Linked DNA regions of Homo sapiens: all the other regions are linked to region 2. The links come from fine-mapping of genetic effects on gene expression. A gene starts in region 2. Each other region holds a variant in brackets. All regions are shown on one strand. Distances are between the middles of the regions.

Region 1 (8,191 bases), 22 kb after region 2:
TCGGAAACTGTAGCTGCTGAAAACTGCATCAGATACTGAGGTTTAGGACCCAACTTGTGTGTCCTGGTTTGGTGCCTTGAAGAACCTGTTACCTGTGGTTCAGCCATAAGGAGACACCCAGGTGTTCATAAGATCTTCCTCAACTGGATCCCGAGAGTCAAGGGCCTTCTCCAAAGGGTGGCCAGAGCCCTGTGGGCACTGGGAGCCTGGGGGTGTTACTGCCACCTTGATCCTGCGGACTTGGAATTCCCATCCAGGAAGGTCTTGTAATGTGGAAAAAAAAAGTTGTGAACTTACCCTGGGATGATGACAGTAATATTTTTAGTATACCTTAGTTTAGAAAATCTAACCAGATACCTTGGTTAGAGATAGTACTCTGAGGTGAGTACTATTTCAAAATGAGTTTGGATCTTGTTCATTCTAATAGCATCTGTATTCACTTGAAAAATGGTTGTACATCAGTGTAGGAGATGTGATATGTATTGAGTCCGCATGTATTGCTCTGTAGGCAGGTGAATTTAAGGACCTATTGCAGTAATTGATTGGCTTCCCCCAAGCATCAATGATCTGTCAATTTGGAACCACTGGTTTTAGAAGCATCAGTCTGCAGAAAACCAGCCGTCTATAGGGAATGACCCTAGTCATTTTGGGAGATTAAACCAGTATAAACCTATACTACCATACTTTAGGATATCCTTGATTGCTTTTAACAATTTTTTTTTAAATTTTTATTTTATTATTATTATTATTTTTTGAGACGAAATCTCACTCTGTTGCCCAGGCTGGAGTACAGAGGCATGATCTTGGCTCACTGCAACCTCCACCTTCTGGGTTCAAGTGATCCTCCTGCCTCAGCCTCCTGAATAGCTGAGATCACACCCGGCTAATTTTTTTGTATTTTTGTTAGAGACAGGGTTTCACCATGCTGGCCAGGCTGGTCTCAAACTCGTGGCCTCAGGTGATCCGCCTGCCTTGGCCTCCCAAAGTGCTGGGATTACAGGCATGAGCCACCATGCCTGGTCAACAATTTTTTAAATTAAAAAGTAATTCAATATTATTGTAAAAAACATTGCAAAACTGTATAACTGTGAACAATTTAGTGTGCAGTGTTTCCACTTTCTTTTGTATATATAACATTATTAAGATTTTTAAAGAAATAGGGTATTATAGTATATAATGTTCTCTAAATGTGTGTGTGTGTGTTTTTTTAAATGTAATTGTTAACTAATTTTAAGGAAGCAAACGTGGTTCAGTGGGAAGGACATCAGATCTGTTCGGGGTTTGTTTCCTGGCTCAGTAATACACTAGTTGGAGGACCAGTAATATAATAATATACTAGTTGGGTGATCCTGGGTAAGTCATAGGTCTTTCTAAGCCTCAGATCCTGGTCTTGGAAATGGGGACTGCTATTTGTCCTCCTTTCTCATAAGGTTGCTATAGGGATACAATGAGATCATATTAGAAAAGCCCTCTTTGTCAATGATAATATAAATGATTGTTATTATTTAAGCTATGATTTCAGCCCTCTTTTCTTTTTCAGGGCTTTGCTCCATATCAGTGAATACTTAACTTGGTGGTAACTTAGTGGTTTGGAGACAAATAGTAACTAGCCTGCTTTCCCCTTTTTTTCTAGGTCACTCCTGGAAGCAAGGCGGCTCTAGCTAATTTATGTATTGGAGATGTAATCACAGCCATTGATGGGGAAAATACTAGCAATATGACACACTTGGAAGCTCAGAACAGAATCAAAGGCTGCACAGACAACTTGACTCTCACTGTAGCCAGGTGAAGCCTATGGAAACGTTTTGTTCATTTCTGATTGACTAGAAGCTGTTTGTGGGCAGGGACTGCCTTCCCTATCTCAGAATCCCCCAGACCTCCTAGCTCAGTGCCATGTATATACTATAGGCATGCCAAAAGGTCTGTGGAATTTGAACTTCAGATTGCTTATTTCCCCTCTATTTTTTTTTTTTTTTTTTTTGAGACGGAGTCTCACTCTGTTGCCCAGGCTGGAGTGCAGTGGTGCAATCTCAGCTCACTGCAACCTCTGCCTCCCGGGTTCAAGTGACTCTCCTGCCTTAGCCTCCTGAGTAGCTGGGATTACAGATGTGCACCACCACACCCAGCAAATTTTTGTATTTTTAGTAGAGATGGGGTTTCACCATGTTGGCCAGGCTGGCCTCGAACTCCTGACCTCAGGTGATCCACCTGCCTTGGCCTCCCAAAGTGCTAGGATTACAGGTGTGAGCCACCGTGCCCAGCCCCCCTCTGATTTTCACGGTGCTTATGATGTGGGCTTCTTTCAGTAAGATACTTGCATTTTCACTTGATCCAACTCAACCAAAATTTTGAGTAAGTAAAATGTCCTGGCCAGGTGCGGTGGCTCTCTTTGTAATCCCAGCACTTTGGGAGGCCGAGGCAGACAAATCACTTGAGGTCTGGAGTTTGAGACCAGCCTGGCCAACATGGTGAAACCCTATCTCCACTAAAAATTAAAAAATTAGCCAGGTGTGGTAGCGTGCACCTGTAGTTCCAGCTACTCGGGAGGCCGAGGCAGGAGAATCACTTGAACCCAGGAGGCAGAGTTTGCAGTGAGCTGAGATGGCGTCACTGCACTCCAGCCTGGGCGACAGAGCGAAACTCCATCTCAAAAAAAAAAATGTCCTTAGGATGCTGCTGCTACTGCATTGTGCTGAGCAGTGGGTACCATGCCAGGAGATTGCAATAACAGAGAAAAACTTGAACACATTAGCAGCAGAGTACTGAGTGTAACTTTAGGTACATGACAAGCAAGGAGCGCTGGGGATAAAAGAATGAATGAGGGTAGCACCTTGGGAGCTGTAATTAGGGTAGAATTTCCATTCTTCTTTCATTTAGCCTTGGAAGGGGTCCCGCAAAGGCAGGATTTCGGAAGTGATTTGGTTCAACCCTCAGTTGGCTCCCTGTTTCCTACTGCATCAAATTCAGATGTTTCATTCTGATCACCTGTTATCTCACTAACCTTAGCTGCCACAGCTCTTTGTCATGGAGCCTTTGGTTAGATTCTCATCTGTGAAGTATGTTTTTTGCTTTTTTTTTTTTGCTTTGTGGCACAGGACTGGCAGGTGGAT[C/T]GAGTGTGGGGGAGTATATAAAAATATTTTGTACACTTCAGAGACCTACCCCATGAGAGGTACACTGTGTTATTACTACCCCCTCAAAAGCACATCTGCCCTTCATTCTCATCTCCATTTCTATCTTTGTCCAAATCCTCTCCTTCAAGCCCGAGTTCAGGACATTCATTCATTCATTGATTAATTGATTTTTTATTTGTTTACCGGCATGTTGAAAAGGGACATCTTGTATATCTGGCATAGACATTGTGACAAATATAAAGTTAAGTATGGCCAGGTATGGTGGCTCTAGTCTGTAATCCCAGCACTTTGGGAGGCCGAGGTGGGTAGATCACCTGAGGTTAGGAGTTCAAGACCAGCCTGGCCAACATGATGAAACCCTGTTTCTACAAAAACACAAAAAAATTAGCTAGGGATGATGGCAGGTGCCTGTAATCTCAGCTACTCGGGAGACTGGGCTGGGAGAATCGCTTGAGCCTGGGAAGCGGAGGTTGCAGTGAGCCAAGATCACGCCATTCATTGCACTCCAGCCTGGGCGACAGAGCGAGACTCTGTCTCAAAAAATAAATAAATAAAATAAATAAAGATAAGTATAAATATTTTCTACCTGCAAGAGAGGAAACAACGACACTAATGAAAACTGAGACTAAAGTAAAATCATTGCTCTGTGGTTGGTACAAAGAAAATAGTTTATAAGAGCAAAAGAGGGGCGTTCTTCTCTTTTTTTTTTTTTTTTGGGATGGAGTCTCACTCTGTCACCCAGGCTGAAGTGCAGTGGTGCTATCTCAGCTCACTGCAACCTCTGCCTCCTGGGTTTAAGCAAGTCTCCTGCCTCAGCCTCCCGAGTAGCTGGGATTATAGGCGTATGCCACCACACCCGGCTAATTTTTGTATTTTTAGTGGAGATGGGGTTTCACCATGTTGGCCAGGCTGATGTCAAACTCCAGACCTCAAGTGATTTCCCCACCTCAGCCTCCCAAAGTGCTGGGATTACAGGCGTGAGCCACCACGCCCGGCCAAGAGGCATTATTTTCATTTGGGTCAAACAGGCTTCACAAATAAGTTGGTTATTTGGTCTGGACCAAACACACTGGGTTGAGATAGAGGAGAAGCCCATTCTATCCTGAGCAGAGATAGGGCAGTGTGAGTCATGCTTAGGAACATGGAGGAGACCACACTGCTGGTGTCAGCTACCCAGAGTGTGGTGAGGGAGGATGAAGTGCTTGGGAAGCCCCTTGGGGCTATGCTGGGGAGCCATCAGCCATGGATGTTATCAGATTGGGGTGTTTAAAAGATCAACCTGGTGGCAAATGGAAGGTAGAGCTGATGGGAGGGTGCTAGTTCAGTGCCTAGTCCAGGAAAGAGGGGGCATTTTTCCAGTTTGTCTTTGGTATATATTATTTATTTTACATGAGTGAAACAGCAGCTTTGTTAATCTGTTGCAGATCTGAACATAAAGTCTGGTCTCCTCTGGTGACGGAGGAAGGGAAGCGTCATCCATACAAGATGAATTTAGCCTCTGAACCCCAGGTAAGTTCTTGCTCATCGTTGCCGCTGCTCTCACCACCCAGCACTTTGCCGTTTCTGACACTGCTCAGCACATTCCTGTTTTTCCTGCCCTGGAGGCCTGGGGATAAGACCCTTCACTGTCTCTGCTGGTATCTGGCTCTTGTTCAGTTCTTCCCGTAAGGGAACTGCAGGAGGATAGGGCTGGAAAACCCCAGGGCAGTGACGCTGTGTCCTGGGCTGGAAGCAGGGGGTCGGAAGGCGATAAGGGAAGCCGGTGGAAGCCTTCCTGCGTGGGAAGGGTTGGCAGGATCACAGTGAAGTCAAGGAGCTATTCAGCTCGTTATGGATTTCAGCAACAAATGAATCATGACAGGGATGAAAATAAGTTTAGGTCTGGAGGCCTAGAGCCTAGAAGAAATCGGGGAATATGTAATAGGAAGCCCTGCTTCTCCCCACTGTATGCCCCTGTCTGGTTTCCATGAGCCATGGAGTGGAAATCTCTATTTTTGTTACAGTGAAACTTCTAGTGAGACTTTAAAATTACTAAAATAAAGCAGCAATTAATATAAAAAAAAGCAGTACATAGTGTACAATTTGTCACCCAGATAGAATTTCTCAGGACAGTAGACTGCCCTAAGATCCCATATTTGTGAATAAATCTCTCAGTAGTTGGATTATTGGATTGTAGGTGATTTTATTTCTTTCTGCCTTATGTGCCTCTTCTAAATAATCTACAAGGCATGGGTATTGTTTTTGAAATAAGGGACAAACTTAGAGATGTTTAGAACATCTTTTGTAAAATTCCTCACACCCAACATGCTACTTGTCTCAAAGTATGTGTCTGTTGGATACATTAATGAATTAGTAATGATAAACTAGGTATGTTGATAATGCCTTTTGAAAATTTTACACTGGTTTGTGATGGTTATGCATTTGACCCAAGTTGAAGATTTGAAATTTAACTTATTTTTCTAAATTTGGGATACTATTTAGTTTTTATGGTGAATTAAGATGTAATTAAAATACAATATATAGCTAGCTATCTTTTATACATAAAACAGAAACTTGTATGAAGTTGAACTCACTTGGTATATTAGTGTGTGTTAATTGGGTGGTTGGATATAAGTCATATTTTCTCAAATAGAATCCATTAAAATTTCAAAAACGAAGTCACATAAAATTTTTGCCATTAAGATAGTAAAAATAATTATTAAAAATCCCAAGAGTCATTTTAAGGATCATTTTGCATCATTTCAAAACTGATGTGAACATATTCTTCTATACAACTCCTCTCAGGAAAGTTCGTAAAATGGCACTTGGTCTATACACTGGCAGTTGTGCAAACTAATTTAAAACATGCCACAGTTAGTTTCAGTTTCCTTGGGAGTTCTCAGCTACTTCATTAAATTTACCATAAATGTTAAATTTTAATTGTTAAATTTTAATTTTTACATATTTTATAACACACAAGGAATGATTTCGTTTTAACTTGGTCTATCTGAAATCCTCATTTTCATGTAAATAAGGTAATTATGTAAATTTCAGTTATAGTTTTCATTTGTAGTATATTTGAATTTTCATTTTAAATCTGTAGTTACCTGTATTAATCTTTTGAAGGTAGTTCTCTTCAGATTACAAAAATTCTCAAATACTTTAAACCCTTGTATTTTTCTTGTGATTCTAGTAATGCTTTATTACTGTAAGAAAAACTTCTCACCCATCATTTTTCCAGTCTTTTACTTCCAGCCATTCTAAAGTAGAGGATAAATGAGTAAGAGCAGAGTTCATCTATAATAAAAAGATCTGTTGGTTCATGTAATGCCAACCAACACCCCAGCTTATCTGAGGTCAGCATAGTTACACACCTAGTTTGTACTTCCTCATTATTGAGTTTCCTTGGAGACTGATAAATACAAAGCCCAAACAATTACATCATCCCTTCTAAAAGGCAAGCCCTGAATCTGCCTGCTTTCTGGAAAGACCAGTCAGTATTCAGATGAGGGTAGAGATATTCCTTTTATGTACAAACCAGATGCATTCTTGAAAGATTCTTTAGAAAGTGAAATCATCCGAATTTTCAACCTGAATTTTCCATTGACTTCCATTCTAATTGGAAATGTGTTTCGGTGGAGGGAGAAGGGAACAGACCCTGGTTGAATATGTGCCACGAGCCAGGCACTGTACTTGACACTCTAGTAACTCACACAAATCCTTGTAAAGAAGGCTTTATCTTCTTCATTTTAAAGATGAAAAATGGGCTTAGAGGGGTATTCCTTGCCAAACAGGAAATTGCAGGGAAAAATTGAGCCAAGGCGGAAAAATAAAGACCCTTCCTTGGGGCTCTGCATCCTCTGCTGCTCCTAGGAATTGCCATGGTGATGGAGAGAAGAAGAAAGAATGACCATCCTGGCTGCGGCACATGTAGGCAAGGGTACCAGGCCACCCATCTGTAAATCTCTGTCTTCATGACCATAGCCTTTAATTACTATATATTATTTATTTGGGTAGCTGTGCCATAAAATTTACTTAACTACTCTTTGATAACTGCTGAAGTTTTGTGTTGTTTTTTATTTTTTGTTATTTATTTTTATTTTTTATTTGTGAGATGGAGTCTTGCTCTGTCACCCAGGCTGGAGTGCAATGGTGCAGTCTTGGCTCACTGCAACCTCTGCCTCCTGAGTTCAAGTGATTTTCTTGCCTCAGCCTCTGAGTAGCTGGGATTACAGGCAGGTGCCACCACGCCTAGCTAATTTTTATATTTTAGTAGAAACGAGGTTTCACCATGTTGGCCAGGCTGGTCTTGAATTCCTGAACTCAGGTGATCCTCTTGCGTTGGCTTTCCAAAGTGCTGCGATTACAGGAATGAGCCACCGTGCCTGGCCTGTTTTGTTTTTTTAGGGATGAGAGTCTAGCTCTGTCACCCAGGCTGATGTGCAGTGGCACGATATGGCACACTGCATCCTCCATCTCATGGGCTTACATGATCCTCCTGCCTCAGCCCTCTCAAGTAGCTGGGACTACAGGCTACTTGACTGTCTAACTTTTTTTTACGGATGGGGTCTTACTATGTTGCCCAGGCTGGTTTCGAACTCCTAGGCTCAAGCAATCCTCCTGATTTGGACTCCCAAAGTGTTGGGATTACAGGCGTGAGCCACTGCACCCAGCCAAAAGAGAAATCTTTTTTTTTTTTTTTTTTTTTTTTTTTGACAGAGTTCCACTCTCGTTGCCCAGGCTGGGGTGCAATGGTACAATCTCGGCTCACCGCAACCTCTGCCTCCTGGGTTCAAGAGATTCTCCTGCCTCAGCCTCCCGAGTAGCTGGGATTACAGGCATGCGCCACCATGTCTGGCTAATTTTTGTATTTTTAGTAGAGATGAGGTTTCTCCATGTTGGTCAGGCTGGTCTTGAACTCCGGACCTCAGGTGATCCGCCCGCCTCGGCCTCCCAAAGTGCTGGGATTACAGGCGTGAGCCACCACGCTCGGCCCAAAAGAGAAGTCTTAAACATAAAAATATTTTCAGGTTGTTTTCTTTTATTTTAAATTAGGTACTCAATAAAGCTTTTAGTTTTCA
Region 2 (8,152 bases):
CTTGCACTTTCCACCCTCCTTGCTTCCCTCTTCTCATTCTCCCCGCTTGCCCTAGAACACCCAGATGTTGAATTTAGGCTGTTTAGGTTAACAAACTTTCATGGAATGTGTTATAATAATAAAAATAAGGCAAACTGAAGTTTGGAGAGGTTGCTTAAGGCCATTCAACTAGCACTGGGCAGGAGTCGAGGGTCTGAGGGAACTGGAAAGCATGAATAAATTGTGTTTAAGTAATGGTGTTTAAGGTAAGAGAAGATTGTTTATGTTTTGGGGTGAGGGTCGTCAATCTTTTTCTGGGTATTTTCTGAGTATATATGCTGTGTGCCCAGTTCAGAGCTAGCTGGTTGGGGGAGAGAAGAGGAGATAAAAAAGATAAATGGAGGCCGGGCGCGGTGGCTCACGCTGTAATTCCAGCACTTTGGGAGGCCGAGGTGGGTGTATCACTTGAGGTCAGGAGTTCGAGACCAGCCTGGCCAACATGGTGAAACCCCATCTCTACTAAAAAGACAAAAATTAGCCAGGCGTGGTGGCAGGTGCCTGTAATCCCAGCTACTTGGAAGGCTGAGGCAGGAGAATCACTTGAACCTGGGAGGCAGAGGTTGCGGTGAGCGGAGATCGTGCCACTACACTCCAGCCTGGGAAACAGAGTGAGACTCTGTCTCAAAAAAAAAAAAAAAAAAAAGGATAAATGATCAGGTCTCTATCCTGAGAAAGACTAGCATTTAGTCTCCATCCAAGGAGCTGGGACCATTTTGATGTTTATTATGAAAATTTTACATCATCATTAGAGGCAATTATTAAAAAAAATTCTCATTCTGTCTGCCACTACTTTTCCTACTTTCTCTTAATTTCAATAGGTAGATAAGCTTTTATTTTTTAACACGGTATACGAATAATTTTGTTGCACTCTTTTTACATATTTTGAAAACACATTTCCCTGTCTCTTCACAGTCTTCCTGGTTATTTTCATGCTGCATACTCTTCCCTCTTACGGCCATACCATATTTAGCCACTTTTCTGTTACTGGTTGATTCCAGTTTTTTGTCATTATAAATAATGCAGCTATAAATATCTGTATACATACAGCATTTTTCTTTTTAAAAATTATGTCCTTGGAATTGTTGCCCAGAAAGTGGATGACTGGGTCAAAGGGCTGACTGTTTTATAGCTCTTGTTATGTAGAGCCAGACTACAACCGAGGACATTTAAAAACAAAGCAACTGAGGACTCAAGTCTCACAGACATTTTGCTAACACATTAGTGCACTATGTCTGTATAGACTATTGTACGGAATAAACACTTATTGACACCTACTGTGATTGAGGTCCATGCTAGCAGGGCACTTGGAATGAATGAAAGGCAGTCTCTGCCTTCAGAAGCACAGAAGCTGTGACTTTTCAACCCTTTTCTCCTTCTAGGACAGAAAATATTCAAGATGGTTACACATCTAGGGACAGATTCAGAATTCGGTGATTCCTGCAAATTCTGCAGGGACTTGAAACACAGTCATGCTTTCTAATCAACAGAATCTTAAACAAAGAGAATGTATTTTTGGTGTTCATAAAGCAGGTGGCTGGTTACTGGCTATAACACCATTCTTTTTCTCAGGTTCAGGAAAGAATATCAGGTTGCAAGAGGTTGAGAGGGATGTATAATCATACAACTCCACTTTCATTTCCTTTTTTTTTTTTTTTTTTAGACCGAGTTTCGCGCTTGTTGCCCAGGCTGGGGTGCAATGGCGTGATCTCGGCTCACCACAACCTCCACCTCCCGGGTTCAAGTGATTCTCCTGCCTCAGACTCCCGAGCAGCTGGGATTACAGGCATGCGCCACCACGCCCGGCTAATTTTTGGTATTTTCAGTAGAGATGGGTTTCTCTATGTTGGTCAGGCTGGTCTCGAACTCCAGACCTCAGGTGATCCGCCCACCTTGGCCTCCCAAAGTGTTGGGATTACAGGTGTGAGCCACCGTGCCCGGCCCTCCACTTGGATTTCTAAAAGCAAACAAACTATTCCCAAACATAGGCATTTGTGCTGTCACACAATTGGACAAGCAAGATAATCTTTTTATGTGTAAATCTGTGCACAGGGCTCTTCAGTAGGTAGGCCAGGATCACAGGGAGACAGAGCTGCACAGGGAACAAACTCATTGAGCATGGGCTCTATGCCAAGCACTGTGCTGGGGCCTGGGTACCAGGATGAATGGGTGCCAAGAAAACTGCGAAGAAACTGGGCCCAGAGAGGGTAAGTGGTCCTGAGGATGGCCAATGTGTTATATACATTAAGTACTATGTGCCAGGCACTATTCTAGGCACTGGGGCACAGCAGTGATCTAAACAGATAAAAACCCCTGTCCTTATGGAATTAATGCTTAAGAGTGGGGGTGGAACAAATAAATATACAAAATATAGAGAATGCCAGATGGTGATACATACAAAAGAAAAAAATAAGGCAGGGGAAGGTAATAGAGCATTCTAGAGAGGATATCTTAAATGATGCTCAGAGATGACCTCAGAAAATGACATTTGCATTTTTTTTATTTTTTAGTTTTTGAGATAGGGTCTCACTCTGTCACCCAGGCTGGAGTACAGTTGCACGACCACAGCTCACTGCAGCCTTGACCTCTCCGGCTCAAGCCATCCTCCCACCTCAGTCTCCCTAGAAGCTGGGACAGGTGTGCCCCACCAAACCTGGTTAATTTTTATTTTTTTAAATTTTTTTGTAGAGACAGGGTCTTGCCGTGTTGCTGGGGCTGGTCTAGAATTCCTGGGCTCAACTGATCCTCCTGACTCAGCCTCCCAAAGTGCCGGGATTCCAGGCGTGAGCCACGTGTCCGGCCCCTAGAAAATGACAGAGAGTGGTGGGGATGTCTGGGAGAACAGCATTGCAGACAGGGCCCTGAGGCAAGGCCCTGAGTTAGGAGCAAGGAGCACAGCCTGGCAGACTGGGGGGCAGGTGAGGAAAGGGCAGGAGGAGTTGGGGTCAGAGAGGGAGTTGGGGCCATTCTAGGGGTGGCCTTGTAGGCATTGTAAGGATCTGGGTTTTCACTGGTGGTGAGGTGGGGACGCCATGGACAGCATGAGAAATGGTCTGGTCCGGCGTGGAGAATGCACTCCACCGGGAGGGCGTCAGGGGGAGCCTGGCTAGGAAGCTGGTGGGAGGCTGGGAATCCAGGTCCCGGACTCAGCTCTTCTTTTGCATTGACTTGGCCCTTGGCCCGCCCCAAACTTGAGGTTTGAACTGTTGAGGTCAGAACCTACCATGAACTCCAGCCTGGAGGAAAGATTTCTAGGAAGGCCTTGAAGTTCAGTTATAACCTGAGTGATGGTCTCATTAGCATTATAAAAGTTCCAGGATGGGGTTCTGCAGCACTGGGCCCGGGCAGTGGTCCAGATGCTGACGAGTGGTGTAGCGTCGGGCAAGTCTTCTCACCTACTGAGCAGACTCAGTTACTTCATCTGTAAAATGGGACTAAACGTCCCGGTTGCCTCAGCATCAAATGAGATCGTTCGAAAGCACCTTTTAAACATCATTACCGATTACAAAAAGCAAATGGGAAGTCGGAGCCGACCTCAGAGGGCTGACTTGGCACAGCACTTCAAATTTCTCGTTTTACAAAGCACGAGGCGCGAGTTTGTCTCGCTGTCAGGACCTGCTTCCCTCTCACCTAGCACCCGCCCCGGGCCCGAGAGCCGCGGTGCGGCCGTGCGTACAGGAGGGAGGGAGGCGGTGTGGGGTCCCGGGCAGAGCTGCTGAGAGCCCCGGCCCCGCATCTGACTCGCGCTCTCTCGGCGGGACTCCGGGCCAGGGCCCCCAGGCCGGCGCGCAGGGCGGGGAGCGGCTGCGGGCGGGAGGACGGGCGGGGCGGCGGGCGGCTACGCGGCCTGGGCGGAGCCGCCCCCGCCCTGGCCCTCGCGGTTGCCCTGCCCCCGCCAGCCCCAGGCTCCCCGGGCCCGCGCCGCGCCGCTCTTTCTCCGACAGCCGCCGGGGGTGCCCTGCAAGCTGTTCCGCGCGTCCTGCCCGTCTGTCCCCGCGGGTCGTCGCCCGCCACAGCCGCGCCATGACCACCCAGCAGATAGACCTCCAGGGCCCGGGGCCGTGGGGCTTCCGCCTCGTGGGCGGCAAGGACTTCGAGCAGCCTCTCGCCATTTCCCGGGTAAGAGCAGCTGGGACGTGCGTGGAAGCGGGGCGCTATGGGAGGTGATATGCGGAGACTGGGGCCCCGCGGGCGCGGTCGGGGACGGAGTCGGAACCGCAGCCGGGCGCGTCCAGGTGCGCTGTTAGTTGAGCGCTCTCCGCGCGCCCGGGCCCCGCCGCTCCCCGCCGCCCCTTCGCGGAGGCTGCGCTCCCGGGCTGGTCGGCCCGCCGCGGGCGCGCTCCGTGTCCGCCAGAAAAAAAGAAGGCAGTTTTCGTTCTTTGGCCCCGGAAGCGCGGCGGGGCGGGTGTTAGTTCTTTGTCAACCAGCGAGGGGACGAGGGTCCCCGCAGATCCCGCGCGCTGGGAGATGGCACTTCTCCCTTCTTCCCAGATCGCAGTGCAGCCGAACGCAACAGGAAAGACCTGGAAAGTGAGGTGGGGTGGGTGGGAAGTTTACTGGGGTGGGGGGCAAGTGGGATTAACCTAAAAAAACAACCGAAACACGCTCTTTGGACTTGACCCACGGCCGAGGCTCGCCCCTCGAATGGCTTTTGGAGAATGTGCTGGATTCGGGAAATAAACACAACAAACAAACTCAAGTAAACCCTCTTGGTCATTCTCCCCTCTGCAGAACGTGGCCCCGCCGTCATTCTTCCTAGCATTCCCAGATTATCTCTTTCCCCTCCCCGCACCAGCCCTTTTTTCTCAGGGCATGAGTAGATACTGCGATGGGGTGTCCACCTGGGGTGGGGTTGAGGTGCTTGAAATCTAAGAGGGGCTTCGGATCTTTAGAAGGACTCACGTTGAATCAGGGGCCACCAGAACCATTGCCCCCCTAATAAAGTGAAACCCCCAGGGAGACCCAGACTCAGTGTTCAGAGGTCTGGGCTTTGGCCATTTAATCTGGCCAAACACAGGTTGATGTCCCACTAAGAGATGTCACGTTCAGTGCTTGGGCACCAAGAAGAGACTCAGTAAGTACCTCGAATGAGGAAAGGGAGAAAAAGAAGTCCCCTTTCTCCCCACCCATGGCCACTCCTTGCCTGTAGGCGGCACATTCCATTCTTGGGCTCATCTGCCTGCTGAAGCTGCCCTTCAGCTTGTCTCCCAGACTTTCTAAACATCCTTCTTTTTCACTTGGGGTTGGGGGAAGGGTGGAGAAGAAAGGGAAATATCCTTATGGATCCTTTTGACTCAAGCTCCTGCGTCCAGCAGCTGAAGGAGTTTGGTGGGAGGTGCAGGAGAAGAATTGGTGGCCTCCTCTTGACTTGTCTGCCAGCCACAGTCCTACCCATGCTTCTTTCCCGGTTGGCCTGGCCCAGTGAGGAGGTCTTCTCTATCTCACCCCCCTAAAAGAGTAGGCGGGCCAGTTTTTGGGCCTTATCTTCCACCTGTTTGCCTCGTCCCACAGAGACCTCTGATTATTCTCAAAGGTACACACTGCCTTTCCAGCCACCAGCCTAATTCCTCAAGCGCAGGAACTGTGCCTTCCCCAGAATCGTCCCCGAGCCTGGTAGCAGACCTGTACCTGGCCGGGCTGGGTAAATCCTTGCAGGCTTATTAATAAATGCTTGTCCAGGGAGGACATTGTGTCTGCACATTTCAACTCGCTTACCTCATAGTCCATTTGTCCCTGTTCTTTGTGTCTATAATTAACCTGTCAGCCCTCTCCACTTCTGAGATTTATATATGACATGAAACCCTTTTTTAAGTAGTGGAGGATGTATTGGCAATCTGTTAAAAGGGCAGTTACTGCCTTTCACTTTAGCTGCTTTTAAAAGTCTTAATGCATGAGTGAATGATGGAATGGGGTGGAAAACACCACACTGTGAATTCATTGGTTTTTACCTTCATATATTCACTCATTTATTATTTATATTATTTATTTATGGCGTGTGCACGTGTTTAATGAGCACGTATCATATTCCAGAAACTGTGCAAACGCCTCAGAAATGAGAGGGCACAGCTCCATTCTCAAGGTGTTCATGGTCTAGTGATGGAAACTAATCTTTATAATGCCCTTGGCAGGTGCTTTAATTGAAAAGTGGAAGTGACTCAGAAGAGGTAACATTTTCATGCTGACAGTAATTTATTTGTTTCTCTTCAGCTCCTTATTAATACATGGAAAAATTGTGAGCCTGTTCACCTCATGGGAATGGGAAAGTCATTGTCATAAAGGGACCCTGGTGTGGCCATCTGAGATCTGGTGCTGGTCCAGTGTCTTCTTGCTTGAGCTGTACCTGGGGTGAATCTTCCACTGTCTGAGGCTACTTAAAAAAAAAAACCTCTGCAGTGGGGATAGCACCAGCCCTTGGCTGTGAGTTAAGGTATGTGAGAGTGCTCCGTAAATAGTGATAGTGAGGAAATGTGAGCACTGACAAAGAGCTGTACACACTTTCTGATTGGTAGGTATGCTACATTATTTATCATCCTGGGCAATTTGCTGGTATAGTTTTGTATATGATAGACTTTGAGTCTCCACACCAAAGCAAACCATAAAATTAGGCTGGGAGAGGAGTGCCTTTTATTTAAATAACCATGTTTGCTTTCTCTTGCATGAATTATTGTGGTATTGGCTCCAGTCTTTTGCTAAACTGCTAAAGCTTCTTAATATAATGCTAATCTTATGTACTTGCAATTTTTTTATTTTTTAACTTATTTTTTATTGTGGAATAAAAAATCATAAAATACAAATGCACAGCAAATGATTATAAAGCAAGCATCTGTATAATCACTACCCAAGTCAAGAAATAGAATATTGCAGCACCCAAAAGTTCCCTAAATGTAACGCTATCCTGACCTATGGTAATCCCTTCCTTGCTTTTCTTCATAGTTTTACCACCTAAATTAGGTATCCCAAATACCATAGCTTAATTTTGCCTGTTTCTGAACAGACTCATACAGAACACGTGTGTGTGTGTGTGAACAGCTTCTTTAGCTCCTTAATGTTTTCATCTAGTATCGTTATCAACTTAAAATTTCAACCCAGGTTTCCAACTTTAAGTGGACATAGGCTAGCTTCTTTTACCCACATTCTCGTTTAGTGCTCTTGCCTTGTGTTCCCTGATGATCCAGCCACACATTTGCCACTGTTCTCTGATATTTTTTTCTGTCAGTTCCTGCTTCAAATCAACACTTGCCCATTTCCTTGAGGTATTTTTTTAATTAAAAAAATTTTCCATGTTAATTTCTCCTTCCCTCTAGTTACTTTCAAGGGAAGCCTTCAGAGAAATACCCAGGCCAACATTGCAACTCAGTTTATGTTGACTGTTTTTCTCTCCCAGCAACTGATAAAAGACAGGAAAGGGTGAGGCCAAGATCAAGGGATGCCCTTAGTTGGAGGAGTTGCTCATTTGTCTCTGGAGTCCTGGGGAACCCTTTGCTAAGAGCTGAGCGGTTCTGTGGCAAATGCTTATGCTTTTTCTCAAGTATCCCAAGGGATGCTTAATAATGGTTACTGTGGCCAGAGGGTCATTTCTGATTTTTAAGAGTGGTATTTCCGGATTCAGATAGATTTTACATCATGTCGTAAAGATTGAAAGAGAAGGGTTTGTCTGTCAGATTATGAAAAGCAGGAAATGTCCAAAAAGGGTCATTATGTTTTAATGGCCATTGTGCTGCATGCCCTTGGTCTGTGAAATTGATACCTGGGAAATATTAGCGACTTCAGCTGCTCACAGCTGACTTAAGGAGAGAGGGGGAAGAGGACAAACCAAAGAGAATGACATGTAAGTGAATGCCTGAGCCCATACTACATTATCACCCTCTGACCAGATAGTCTCCCCTCCCTAAACTCCTGATGCCAACCTTGCTGGTTTGTTTGAGGAGGCAAGAGGGAAGAACAGTGGCTTTAGGGTATTGCAGCCAGGTAGATGACTGAGAGGAGAGTGTCATCTAAGCGTCTGGGTCATATTCTCCTAGGCTGACCAGGACTGGGAAAAGCACCAAGGAATTGCTGTGTACTGGGATCAGGATAGGACTGGCACATTCTTAGGCCATGCCTTAACTCTTGCTCC
Region 3 (8,191 bases), 39 kb after region 2:
TTTTAACAGTCTTAGGTCTTCCAGTCCATGAACATGAGATGTCTTTTTGTTTATTTGTGCATTCTTTGGTTTCTTTCAACAATGTTTTATATTTTTAAACATTTTAAAATGTTTTATAATTTTAAAATGTACTCTATTCAGTGTACAAGTCTTTCACCTCCTTGGTTAAGTTTATTAGGTATTTTGTTCTTTTTGATGATTACACAAGATTGTTTTCTTAGTTTTCTTTTTGGATTATTCATTGGTAGTGTATAGAAACAACTTTTTTGTTTGTTGATTTTGTATTTTGCAACTATGCTGAATTCATTTATTAGTTCCAATTGTGTGTGTGTGTGTGTGTGTGTGTGTGTGTGTGTGTAGTGGGGGGGGATCTTTAGGGTTTTCTGTGTATTCGATCATCGCATCTTTGAACAGATACAATTTTACTTCTTCCTTCCCAATTTGGATGCCTTTTATTTCTTTGACTTGCCTAAGGTCTCTGATTAGGACCTCCAATGCTATGTTGAAAAGAGGTGGTAAAAGTTGGCATTCTTGCCTTGCTGCTGATCTTAGAGGAACAGCTTTTGGTTTTTCATTTTGAGTGAGAGGTTAGCTGTGGGTTTTTCATACATGGACTTTATTATGTGGAGGTAATTTCCTTTCATTCCTGTTTTGTTGAGTATTTTTATCATGAAAGTTTGTTAAATTTTGTCAAATGCTTTTTCTGCATTCAGATGACTGTAGTTTTTGTCCTTCATTCTGTTAATGTGATGTGTTACACTGATTGATTGTTATATGTTAAAACATCCTTGCATTACAGGATTAAATTCCACTTGGTCATGGTGTTTAATCCTTTTAATATGCTGTTGAATTTGGTTTGCTAGTAGTTTGTTGAGTATTTTTGCATCAATATTCATTAGTAATATCAGTCTGTAGCTTTTTTTTTTTTTTTTTTAGTATCTTTGGTTTTGGTATCAGGGTAATAGTGGCCTCATAGAATGAGTTTGGAAGCATTCTCTCTTCAGTTTTTTGGAAGAGTTTGAGAAGGATTAGTTTTAATTCTTTTAAAATTGTTTGATAGAATTCACCAGTGAAGCCATCTGGTTCTGGGCTTTTCTTTGTTGGGATGTTTTTGATTACTGATTGAACCTCCTTACTAGTTATAGGTCTGTTTAGAGATTTTTAATTTTTGTATGACTCAGTCTTGGTAGGTTGTGTTTTTGGGAATTTATCTATTTCTTCTAGGTTTTCTAATTTGTTAATGTATAATTGTTCATAGTAGTCTGTTATTATCCTTATTTCTGTGGTATTAGTTGTAATGTCTCTTTCATTTCTGATTTATTTATTTATTTACTTACTTACTTACTTACTTAGAGGCAGTCTCTCTCTCTTGCCCAGGTTGGAGTGCAGTGGCTCACTGCAACCTCTGCCTCCTGGGCTCAAGTGATCTTCTTACCTCAGCTTCCTGAGTAGCTGAGACTACAAGTATGTGTCACTATGTCTGGTTAATTTTTTTTGTAATTTTTGTAGAGACAGGGTTTCACCATGTTTCCCAGGCTGGTCTCGAACTTCTGAGCTCAAGCAATCCTCCTGCATTGACCTCCCAAAGTACTGGGATTATAGTCGTGAGCCACCGTGCCTGGCATGATAGTATTGTTGAATTTTTCTGTATCCTCTCTGATTATCTGTCTAGTTGATCTATCAGTTGTTAAGAGAGGGGTATAGAAGTCTTCAACTAAAATTGTGAATGTGTCTCTTTTCCTTTCAGTTCTATCAGTTTTTGCTTTACATATTTTGAAGCTCTGTTGTTTGATGCACACACATTTAACATTGCTATAGCTGTTGGTGAGTTAACCCTTTTGTGGTTATATAATGTCCATTTCCATCTCTGGTAAATTTACTTGTTCAGAGGTATACTTATCAGATATTATTAATAATATAGCCACTCCTGTTTTCTTTTGATTAATATTGGCATGATATATTGTTCTCTACCATTATACTTTTAGCCTGCTTATACATTAATATTGGAAATGAGTTTTATGTTGATAGCATGTATTTGGGTCATGTTTTAAAATGTACTGTTTTGTATCTACCCTGTTCATTTCTGTCTTTCAGTTGGTTTATTTAGATGATGAACATTAATGCGATGATTGATATGTTAGGGCTTAAGTCTGGTATTTTATTTTGTTTTCTGTTTTCCATTTCTGTTTTCTTTTTCCTGCTTTCCTGTGGGTTATTTGACATCATTTTTTTTAGAATAACATTTTTATTTGTAGTGTTTTTTATTCTATGTCTTTGTATAACCTTTTCAGTAGTTATCTGGGTATTACATTGTGTATATATAACTTATCACAGTTTACTGGCGTCATCATTTCAGGAGTTCAAAGAAGTATAGAAACTTTGCTTCTCTTTGTGAACCTTTGCCCTCCCCTGCTTACAATATAGTTAAAATAGATCCTTTTATACACTTAGAACCACATCAGACAGTGTTATAATTTTTGCTTTACTTGTCAACAAGAGTTAGAATATATTGAGAGGGCAAGTATTTTTTAAACCCATATTTTTGCTTATGGGTTCTTTTTTCATTCTCGATATTCCAAGATTCCTTCTTTTTTTTTTTTTTAAGACAGAGTCTCGCTCTTGTCACCCAGGTTGGACTACTGTGGTGCGATCTCCGCTTACTGCCACCTCCACCTCCCGGGTTCAGGTGATTGTCATGCCTCAGCTTCTTGAGTAGCTGGAATTAACGGGCATCCGCCACCACGCCCAGCTAATTTTTGTATTTTTAGTAGAGACAGGTTTTTGCCATGTTGGCCAGGCTGGTCTTGAACTCCTCACCTCAGGTGAGCCACCATGCCTGGCTGGTTCCTTCTTTTATTTTTTTTCGTCTATTTAGAGAACTTCCTTTAAACATTGTTAGGGTAGCTTTGCTAGAGATAAATGCTCTCAGTTTCCCTGTATCTGAGAATGTCTTGATTTCTCCTTCATTCTTGAAGGATATTTCCACTGGATACAGAATGCTAGGCTGGCAGTTTTTTTTCTTTCAGCAGCTGAAAGCATTGTGCTACTTCCTTCTTTTCTTTATGGATTCTGATAAGAAATCTGCTGTCTTTTGAATTGGTTTTCCCCTCTAGATAAGGCGTCATTTTTCTCCTACTGCTTTGGAAATTCTTTCTTTGTTGTAGTTTTCAGAAATTTACTATGATATGTTTTGGTGTGGATTTTTTTAGGTTTATCCTGTTTCCTGTTCACTTCACTTCTTTATGTCTTTTGCCAAATTTAGGACACCTTCAGACATGATTTCTTCTAGTACTTTTCTAGTTCCACCTTTTTTCTCTTCTTCCAAGACTCCATTGACATGAATTTTTGATCTTTTATATATTCCCATAGGTTTGTGAGGCTCTTCATTTCTTTTTTTTCTCCCCATTCTATTTTTCTATGATCTTGAAATTGTATAATTTCTAATATTCACCTTCCAGTTCACTGATTCTTTCCTTTGTCTCCTTCATGCTGCTGCTGAGTGTATCCACTGTGGTTTTATTTCAGTTATTTTGTCAGTTCTAGAATTTCCATTTCATTCTTTATATCTTCTGTTTGTTGAGACTTTATTTGTTTTAAATGTGCTCATAATTGTTCATTGAAACATTTTTATGATGACTGTGTTACCATCTTTGTTAGATAATCCCAACATCTCTGTCATCTTGGTGTTGGCATCTCTTTATTGTCTTATTTACAGTTTGAGATCTTCCTGGTTCTTCTGAGAGATGTGATTTTTCAACTGAATCTTGAACATTCTTGTTACTATGTTATTAGATTCTGGATCGCATTAAAACCTTCTGTATTCACTGGCTTCCTCTCAGATATGGGATTGGGGATGCTGCCTCATTACTGACAGGTGGGGGTAGAAAGTCCACTTTCCCCACTCTGCCTATGTCACACCTGAGGTCATTGGGGCCACTCATTACTGCTGGATGGGGTGGGAGTTCTGGCTCCCCATATGGCTTCCACTGACACCTTATGGGTGAGTGGTGGCCTAGACACTGCTGAGCAGTGGTGAGAGTCCTGATTCTCTCCTAGGTTTTCTTCATTACAGCTGGGTAAGGATGAAATATGGACTCTCTATTGGGCTTTCTCTGAATCTACCCCAGTGAGATAGTTGGGGAACCACATCATAGCCTGGTGAGACTAGAAGTCTGGACCCCCCACTTGGCCTTTTCTGGCATTTGGCTGGAGAATAGTGTTGTTTCAATGTGTTGTGTTTTGCTGGGCTGCCCCTTTCTGGTTATTTGGTCAGATACAGCAGGCTCCTCTTGAGACTTCTTCTGTCTGTGCCCATTGCCCTTTCCAGGTTGCTGCCCTCCGCTCCATGTCTGGGATGTCCAAGGAAACAAGAACACCCTGGGAGCTCACCATCGTGGTCCTCAGGACGTGGGGTCCCTAGCCAGTGTGGCTTCCGTTGCCCTGTCAGAGTCTTCTCATGTTGTTTTATATGTAATGTCCAGGGTTTTTGGTTTTACTGGGTGAAACAGGGAAAAATATGTCTACCTCATCTTCTCAGACAGGAAAAATATTTTTATGAGGAGACCATCTTCTCCTGTCTGGATGCTTTCAATAATTCACGTAATCCCCGTTTCTATTCCAATTTTTATCTCACATACAGGTAGTTTTATTAAAGTATCAAAATGTTCTTACTGTGTGAGAAAATGACCCTACTAAGGTTGTATCAGCAATGAGGATTTTTTTCTTATGGCTGTCTTGTTTTAGCAACTTCTGCCTCCTAGGTTCAAGCGATTCTACTGCCTCAGCCTTCCAAGTAGCTGGGATTACAGGCACACGCTGCAGCACCTGGCTAATTTTTTTTGGATTTTAGTAGAGATAGGAGTTTCACCGTGTTGCCTAGGCTGGTCTCGAACTCCTGAGCTCAGGCAATTCACCTGCTTCGGCCTCCTAAAGGTGTGAGCCACCGCACCTGGCCTAGCTGAGATTTATATACAGATAATTAAGTTGCTGCCACAGATGATGGCCCAAGTTAAAAAAAAAAAAAA[G/AG]CCCCTTATATCCTCACTCTGGGCACTTCATGGTTCTGATGGAGTAGACTTTCATCCCAGGGTTGCTGTGCTGACCCATGCTCCAGAGCCATGGGCGTACTGCTTTCCATCCTCCTCGTCCTTCTGACCCTCACCCCAGCTGCCCTTTTGGCTGGAGCAGGTGTGAGAAACACATAAGGTCTGCAGGCTCAGCCTCCAAAATCCTCCTCTGGGAGGTGGGCTCAAGGGGAGTTTCTGCTTATGTTCTAAAGACCACTAGGATCCTCCTACGCCTGGCTGTGTCAGCCATCTTATTTGGCAGGGATGGGAGTGGCTTGGCTAGAATAACCCTGGGGCCCTCAGGTCACGTCCTAAAATAGTGGGAGAAAATATTAAACATTTAGGAAACAGATACACATCAGCTCCCAGGGAGAAACAAGAACTAGGAAACTTTGTGTAACGTATTGTTACTCCAAAGTAGTTGAATTTGCTTAAACTCGTTATTAAAACTGTATAGAGTGGGTTCAGAAGAAAGTGTTCATTTTCACTGTTACGCCGTCAAAACTTTTTCTCCTGGAGACTGAGTGGTGTGTATTATATTTTCTGAAGCCATATCACTGTAATATTCTTTCATTGCTGTTTTTAATATAAAAACGAGAAATTTTTTGCTCCATTTCTCCTTCATATTTTTGTCATCATTTTTTAAGATATTGTGGTATCATGTCAATACCTTGTAATCTAGTGTCTAAGACTTAGACGTTGGATCTTAGGATGTTATTTTTGAGTCAGGTGTATCAATACCTTAAGTAAGGTAATAGATATTGAGAGTCCTTTATAAATTGTCCAGTGGTTTAAAGATACTATCATTATTTGAGAAAAATGGTAAGTTTTTTTTTTTTTTTAAATTATAGAAATCCCTCACAAGGTGATTTGCTGGAAGAATATGTGATGGCCTTGTGGTCTGGGTTCTGTCATTTTTTTGGTGTGTTCCATTGGTGGCTTCCAGACATAACATACACCAAAGAAGAAGAAAAATCTTTCCCAAGAACATTCCATAGTCTGATCTCAATTTTAAAATAGTCCTAAGTGTAATAGAAAAAAGATTTATCCAAAAATAATGTAATATGCTTATTATGGGGCAAGTTCCAAACTCAGGACTCAAAGAGTCAGGCATATAACTCAAAGAAAGGGCTGGAAAGTGAGACAAAGAAAGACCCTTGGTTAAAACAACTCCCCCAGGTGGCCCCATTGCCTGCCCTGAGAGGCACCCACAGTTCCCTGCAGGTGGGGGAAGAGGCCAAGCAGGAGTGGGCAGGACAGGCAGGGATAGCTGCTTTCCCTTCCCCAAATGCAGCCGGCCGGAGTGACCAACCCATGAATCTTGCTACTTAAACTCTGACCTTCTTTGGTAGCCATGAAGCATATGCCACTCTTTGGGTGCCTTTTCCTTTATTGTGAGAACATGGTTGGAGTGGAAGGGAAACACCTGGACCTTGATTGCTATGATTGACTCTGCCTTTAGCTGGGGACCTGAGTACTGAACGTGCCCCAGAGGTTGTCTCAGAAAAGAGAAAGGAAGAAAGGAGAGGAAGAGAGGGAGAGGAAAAGGGAACTTGCGGAGAATTACCCAGGGAAAACATATACCCTGGAAATGAGTAAGCGTAACTGATATAATTCATTTGCACCTGTGAAAGTGGCTCCAGCCCTAAAGAGAGTCTGTTTAGAGTTGCTGAATAAAACCACTCCTGGCCACTGCCTGCATCTGTAAAGCTGGGAGGCAGCCTGGTGGGCTGGAGACTTTATAGCTTTATTACTCAGGAAGCACAACTTGTTTATATACAAATCTATCCATCTGCATCAATAAATTGCCCCACCATCTGATATTTGCTCTTTGGTTCCACTGGGCACACTGGCCTTTCTCCTTAGCAGCTCAGCTGAGAGGAAGGTGGTGATCTGGGGCCAGGAGGTGGGGCTGCCCATGTCCCTGGCACAACCCTCAGAGGCTGGCTGCCCTGGAGGACCTCGTGAGCCTGCAGGAACAGGGGGAGCACAGCAAGGAGGAAGGAGGCCCTGGACCCATTCTGCAGTGTTCGTTCACTTGCCTGATGCCTGCTGCCTGCTGAACTGTGACCTGTGCCAGGCACTGAGCCGGGCCTGGGAATGTGATGGGGAGCAAGACAGGCCATGCTCCTGCCCTCCTGGGGCTTACTTTCCAGGGGGAGATAGACAACAAAGAAATAAGGGAATACACTGGAATCCATGGTGAGAGAGCAGGTAGGGAGTTAAGAGTGATAGTGGGGATGTGGCGGACTGTTTGGAGTCGGGGTCAGGAAGGCCTCTCTGAGGAGTGCACTTGAGCAGAGACCTGGATGAAGCATGGGAGCCATGACAACACCTGGGAAGGGCATTGCAGGCTGAGGGTGCAGTAAGTGCATAGGCTGTGAAGCTAGTGTTTCCCAGGCACAGCGGGAAGCCTGGTCTCAGTAGAGCAGAGTGGGCCAGGGCTGGCAGGGGATGTGTGTGGAGGGAGAAGTTTGGGTCACATATGTGAGGGACTTTCTCCTCTGTGATAACATTTACTCCAAAAAAGTTGAATTTGATTAAACATATATTTTAGTATTAAAACTAAATATTTTGTGCTAAGTCAAATGAGAATACATTGAGCCACAGCATGACACAGTCTGATTCATGTTTAAAATATCATTCTAGGCCAGGCACTCTGGCCCATGCCTATAATCCTAGCGCTTTGGGAGTCCGAGGCTGGAGGATCACTTGAGGCTGGGACTTTGAGACCAGCCTGGGCAACACAGCAAGACTCTGTCTCTACAAAATAATGACAAAATCAGCGGGGGATGGTGGCACACCTGTAGTCCTAGCCACTCAGGAGGCCGAGGCAGGAGGATTTATCTATTGAGGCCAGTAGTTCGAGGTTACAGTTACCTGTGATTGCACCACTGTACTCCAGCCTGGGTGACAGAGTGAGTCCCTGTCTCTAAAAAACAAAAAATATCACTCTGATATTTTGAATAGAGGCCATCACTTTGGCCTAAGCATGGCATGGCTTGGACCTGGGGGAGGTGGGGAGGTGAGAAGGGGTCAGATGGAGGATAGATTTACAGGTATAGCTGATGAGAGACTACCTCCCTGTCACCGTCCACTGCTTAGAAAGTGGAGCCCTCAGGGAAAGA

Evidence for each region.
Region 1: its variant is fine-mapped to the expression of PDLIM1 in whole blood (TOPMed, PIP above 0.99).
Region 3: its variant is fine-mapped to the expression of PDLIM1 in whole blood (INTERVAL, PIP 0.95).

The regions. Positions count from the first base shown.
Region 1 is chr10:95,265,227-95,273,417 of GRCh38, reverse strand. PDLIM1 (PDZ and LIM domain 1) reads left to right here. Exons shown (of 7, transcript NM_020992.4): 2 at 1,634-1,785; 3 at 4,556-4,640. Among named protein-coding and RNA genes, the nearest start is that of PDLIM1, 22 kb to the left of the region's middle. The variant C/T (reference allele first, on the strand shown) is at 3,111.
Region 2 is chr10:95,286,823-95,294,974 of GRCh38, reverse strand. It overlaps PDLIM1 (PDZ and LIM domain 1), which reads left to right and starts at 3,972. Exons shown (of 7, transcript NM_020992.4): 1 at 3,972-4,155. The coding sequence starts at 4,060. RefSeq lists enhancers at 1-13, 1,322-1,411, 5,136-5,455 and silencers at 1,902-1,971, 3,615-3,694, 3,745-4,134, 4,185-4,284, 4,305-4,414.
Region 3 is chr10:95,248,068-95,256,258 of GRCh38, reverse strand. All of the region lies in intron 4 of PDLIM1 (PDZ and LIM domain 1), which reads left to right. Among named protein-coding and RNA genes, the nearest start is that of PDLIM1, 39 kb to the left of the region's middle. RefSeq lists an enhancer at 1,390-1,569. The variant G/AG (reference allele first, on the strand shown) is at 5,025.